Regions from separate parts of the Homo sapiens genome. Here region 2 is linked to region 1. Evidence: fine-mapped expression QTL. Tissue or cell type: esophagus mucosa. Region 1 holds a variant in brackets; the other region holds the start of a gene. All regions are shown on one strand. Distances are between the middles of the regions.

Region 1 (2,621 bases):
CGGTCGCTGGTCCAGGGGTGGGGGACCCAGAAGAGAGCGCCGCCGGAAGCCCCCGCCGCGGCAGCAGCCCGCAGCCCGCAGCCCGCAGCCCGCAGCCTGCAGCCCCAGCATCATTTTTAGAAATCTCGCTTTCTAAGTTAGTCAACAGTGCAACCCGACGCCCACAGGGAGGGGTATGACTTCCCGACTCCCTCTTCTAATTTCAGCAGCCCCCAGCGGCGTAGGGGGAGGGGATGTCGGGGGCACCGCAGGTGCCACCCAGAGCCCCTAGCAGCCGCCTACCCAGGGCAAGGGTCCCATGCCCGGCTGCTGGGCACCCCAAGCAGCCCTGCTGGAGCAGTTCTCAGTCCCACTAGTGACCCCCGCTGCCTGCCTTTGGCTAAGGGGAGGAGGGTAGGCTCCCACGAGCACCCCTTGGGAGCAGATGGTGGGCCCTGAAGAGCCACAGCCCACTGGCCGCATCACAAGAAGCCTGAATTACCCGAATTCCGGGTGGAAAGATCAAGCCTTTCTGCAGACAGAGCTTCAAGGACTTTCCCTCTGCCTGTTCCTGCCTGGGTCTTGTTGTCATTTGTTCTCTGTCTTACCCGCACCCCACCCCACCCCCCTTTTTGTTTTTGTTCTTCCTAAAAGCATACAGCTCAAACTGGACCAAAGTATTTTTATTCCGTGGATAGAGAAACAGATGTTCAGGTCAAACCCAGATCCATTCACACGCAGCAGCTGCAGGCCCCATGCATCCCAGGCCTTCGAGAGTTGAAAGATGTCAGATGACAGGACCCCAGACCACAAGACTCAGTTTCACCAGCAGAGGAATTGAAAGCCCAACAGAGAGGCAAAGAGACTCTTCTGAGGTCAAAAAACAAGTGTTGGAAATCCCTGGGGAGGCTAGACGTGGTGGCTCACGCCTGTAATCCCAGTGCTTTGGGAGGCCAAGGTGGGAGGGTTGCTCGAGGCTGGGAGTTTGAGGTTGCAGTGAGCTACGATAGTGCCACTGCACTCCAGCCTCGGTGATAGAGCGAGACCCTGCCTCTTTAAGAAAAAAAAGGAAAGAAAGAAAAGAAAAAAAAAAAGGAAATTCCTGGGGAATGACTTTGGGATGGATTACAGAGGGTCAGTGTGGTAGATGGAGGCCTGAATTCACTCAGATGTGGGGTCCAGGACAGGCTGTGTCCTCCCAGCTGTGTAAGCTCCAGCCAGTTGCATACCGGTAGGCACATGGTGTTCCACAGGATAGGACTCCTGTCTGCCCTACACAAATGGGGCCGGGGGAGATGCCATGATCTCTGTGGGCATGTTTCCTGGGGCTGAAAGGCAACCTGTGCTGTAAGGGGGTGCAGTGCCAGGGCCTGGGAACCCACCTCCTGGAGAGAGGCCTGGCTTCTGCCACCGGGAGAGGCAGTGGGTGAAATACAGGCAGATCTGGCTATGTAACCCTCGGA[C/G]AAGCTTTTTCACGTTCCGGAGCCTCAGTGTCCTCAGTTAGTCATCGTACAAGTATGACATTGTAAGGTCTTGTTGTTCAGTGGCTGGCACGTAGGAAGGGTTCAGTCACTGGTCGCTCAGCATTATTTTCAGAAGTGAGGTTGCCCTGTGGTGTCCTTGGAGTGACCTGCACAATCTCTGTGCACACAGTCTTGGCCATTGCTTGGCAAGGACTGTGGCATGAAGACATTATTGGCTATGTCACTCTCAGGGCTGCTGTCCACTCTGAGGCAGGGCATGGTGGCAGTCAGGCCTTGGGAAGTTGTAGGTGCCTCCTGGCGGGACAATCTCACGTGCAGATGTAGCTGCTAGAGTAGAGGTCTCGAACCTTAAGGTCCATGCTCTCCAGAGAGGCTTCAGAAATCTGCCCTTCCCCAAAATGGTATGCAAAATGTGGTGTCTATGGGGACAGGGACCATGGTATTCATCAGACTCTCAAATGGGGGCAACTAAAAGAATTAGGAACCTTTGTTCTGGGCATCAGCAAGTCAGGCATTAAGAGCCACTGTCGGAGGGCATGGCAGGCGGCATGGACCTCAGCCCTACCCTGGGTGTGACCCACTGACCTCACACCATGCTTAGCTAGCCAGTACCGGCCAGTCAGAGACATGAGTGCCTCCCCTGGGCACCCACTCTGCATAAGCCCAACAGAGAGTCAACCATGCCTGAGGTCTGGGTGGGCCACCAGGTTCAGGGTGTGGGAAAGAGACCCAGGCCCCAGCAGGCAGGATGGGGACCAGTGAGCAAGACTCTTTGGGGACTGGCTCAGGACAGGGGACCGTGAGGTGGGGTGGTGATAGGTGAGGGGTGCAAGTCATGAGGGCCTGGGAAAATAGGGGCAGAGGAAATGAGGCAGGGTCCACTGTGCCAGCTTTGGGGGCTCCTTGTTGTCCACTGGAAAGTGGCCCATGTGAGGGATGGGCCACCAGATCCAATGCCCTGCCTCAGTGCGCTTGGTCAAAGAGTTAGAAAATTCTCTCTGAATAAGGCCTCAGACTGTGGGTCATGGAGGTACGACTGGGGGTGTTCTCACCCTCTCTCTCTTTTGCTCAGTTTCTTTCTTTCTTTGGTCCTTATTTTATTTTTCCTGTCTTGTTTATGTTTTTCTCATAAGCCACTCAAGTCATTTTGGGAAACAG
Region 2 (2,702 bases), 84 kb after region 1:
GCTCAGGCCATGGGAGCAAACCAAGTCAGTTTCAGGGAGATTACTGTTTGGTACTTTCTTGGAGAGACCTGGAAGTTCTGTGTTAGAGCCCTGGAAAGCTGGTTTGTTTAAAAACAAAACAAAATAAAACCAAATCTTTACTCCTCATTCTCTCATTTAAGGTGAGTTTGTTTATACACAGCCTCCTTTATGTTTTTCTGCCAAATGACTCACTTGTACTGAGTCACCAGAAAGTGGGCCTAGGCCCATCTGCAGCTGCCCTGGACACTACGATCTCATTCTCCTGGAGGTGGGTCATGGAGATCTGGAGACAGAGAAAAAGAGAAGAGCAGAGAAATAGGATGGAGAGCCAGGCCTGACAGTGAGGTGCATACTCATATTTTCACGAGCATTTGGTTGTCAGACAGGGGCCCCCAACAGAACTCGCAAGAACCCCAAGGAGCTGCAACATTTGTTTCTGTTGCAATACTATTTGTTTCCGTTTGCGAATTATTGCAAACTCTGAATTAGGAGACCAGAATTAATAATATCACATGGTCATTCACAGATCAATCATTTCGTCTTCGGGTCTACCTTCAGAATCTTGAGCAAGTTATTTTCCCATTTGAGCCCCTCTTTCTTCACTTAATGAGGTGGCTTACAGTCCTAAACTTTAGACAGTTTATTATTCATTTACTGGGGAGGGAGAGGTTATGGAAACAAATGGAACTTTATTGACCAAGAAAATTTGTTTACATGAAATCTTTGAATCTTTCCCCATAGGTTTCCATTTAAAATTCTGTGTTCTCTGGGCATCATTTGGTTTAATTTGCGATCTGCAGTTCTTTTCCTGATGATGAGTTTGCCCTAGCCTGCCTGAATTCACAGTTTTCTTTTCCCTGCAGCCTGTTTGGGTGTCCTCGCGGTGACATCTCTGCAGAACTCTGGTGTGAGCCAAAGGCAGTGGTCGGATGGGAACGGCATCCAAGCTTGAGAGGGCGTGGGGGATACTCGGATTCTCGCGTTGGCCGGAGGGTGAGGTGTTAGGTTTGGCAAACACGAGCTCATCACCAGCCCTGGGGCCTGAAGAAGGGGAGGTGGGGGTGGGAGTGGGGACACTTCAAATCAATAACGGCGGTGACAGCGCGGGCTGGGTACCAGGGGACCGTTCCCTTTCTCTCTCCTATCAAAGCACTTGGGATAATCTAGTCTGGTGCTAATCACATTACCCAGGACCTGCTTTTCACCTACTTCTTGTGCGTTTAAGGAGTTGGGTAGGTGGTGCCCGATTCAGAAGACTCTGGAGCATGTGTGTGACAAAAGTTGCAGCACCGTGGCTCCGCTGACCTCATCCCGCTGTCCCGGGCCGGGCCGCTCTCCAGGCGCCCGGCCCCAGCCCCCTTCCTGCCCTCTCCCCGCCTCCGGGCCCGCCGCGCGGGGCCGGTGATGTCAACTGAGGAGGAGCCGCCCGCCAGCCAGCGACCCGCCCGGGCTAATTAGCATGTAGCGGCGCCGCGGGCCGCCTCCGCCCAGCCAGCCCGGCCCCCGGCAGCCCTCCCGCGGCTCCCGATAACTTTTGAGGCGGGGAGCGCGCTCGCAGCCTCACTCCGCTCACTTCCCCGGCCCCGCGCGGCCCCCGCCGCCCGCTGCCCGCTGCCCGCTGCCCTCGCCCCGCGCGCCGGGCATGTGAGCGCGGGCGGGCGCCGTCACCATGGCCTCGCCGCGCGCCTCGCGGTGGCCGCCGCCGCTCCTGCTGCTGTTGCTGCCGCTGCTGCTGCTGCCGCCGGCGGCCCCCGGGACGCGGGACCCGCCGCCTTCCCCGGCTCGCCGCGCGCTGAGCCTGGCGCCCCTCGCGGGAGCGGGGCTGGAGCTGCAGCTGGAGCGCCGCCCGGAGCGCGAGCCGCCGCCCACGCCGCCCCGGGAGCGCCGCGGGCCCGCGACCCCCGGCCCCAGCTACAGGGCCCCTGAGCCAGGCGCCGCGACACAGCGGGGACCCTCCGGCCGGGCCCCCAGAGGCGGGAGCGCGGGTGAGTGAGAGCCGGGAACCTGGCGCCTGGCCAGTCTGTGCTGGGGGCGTGGGCGCGCCCCGGGCTGCATCCCCAGCCGTAGGCCCCTCCGCGCGGCGCGACCCAGGGTGGGGGCTCCTCGCCCGGCGTGTGCGGGACCCTGAGGGTCGGCGGGTAGGGAGGGACGCTTTCGCAGTTGGCTGGACTGAGGGGTGTGACTATCCCGTTCTCCTCCAACCCTTTGGAAGAAAACTTATTTCCTATGGGGTACCCTGTATCTCTTCCACCCCACTTTAAAAAAAATGGAAAGGAAAGGGAAAAAGACTGCAAAGCATCTCTCCCACCTCCGATATCTGGCCAGCCGGTCCCCAGTTTCATTTTTTCCGCTATACAGAACTGGCCTCTCCAGGTACAGGGCTCGACTTTCTCATCTAAATAACTGATTTTTAAGGGGTTCTAGGACGGGATATTGTAAAGGACAAAGGATGTACGTAGTTTGAAACAAAACGCTCTACTGGTTCGACTTAAAAGCAAAGGAACGCGGTTGGGGTTGCATGGTTGAACCCCTGCAAGGCACAGGCTGATACAGGACCATCCCTGAGCCTCCTCCCTCCCCTTTCCTTTCCCAATGAACTGTTGCTCCGTGGTAGCCACCGCCTGTCCCACGCAGAGAGAAGGAACTGACCTCTTCTCCCTGCTACCTTTGTGTCCAGTTCT

The links. PIP is the estimated chance that this variant, and not a neighbour inherited with it, causes the effect.
Region 2: it holds the start of HEG1, and the variant in region 1 is fine-mapped to the expression of HEG1 in esophagus mucosa (GTEx, PIP 0.97).

Annotation. Positions count from the first base shown.
Region 1 is chr3:125,139,150-125,141,770 of GRCh38, reverse strand. The region is part of intron 5 of SLC12A8 (solute carrier family 12 member 8); the gene reads left to right. Among named protein-coding and RNA genes, the nearest start is that of MIR5092, 11 kb to the left of the region's middle. RefSeq lists a silencer at 1-190. The variant C/G (reference allele first, on the strand shown) is at 1,443.
Region 2 is chr3:125,054,879-125,057,580 of GRCh38, reverse strand. It overlaps HEG1 (heart development protein with EGF like domains 1), which reads left to right and starts at 1,584. Exons shown (of 17, transcript NM_020733.2): 1 at 1,584-2,006. The coding sequence starts at 1,691. RefSeq lists an enhancer at 1,021-1,070 and silencers at 1,321-1,700, 1,781-1,870, 1,931-2,090.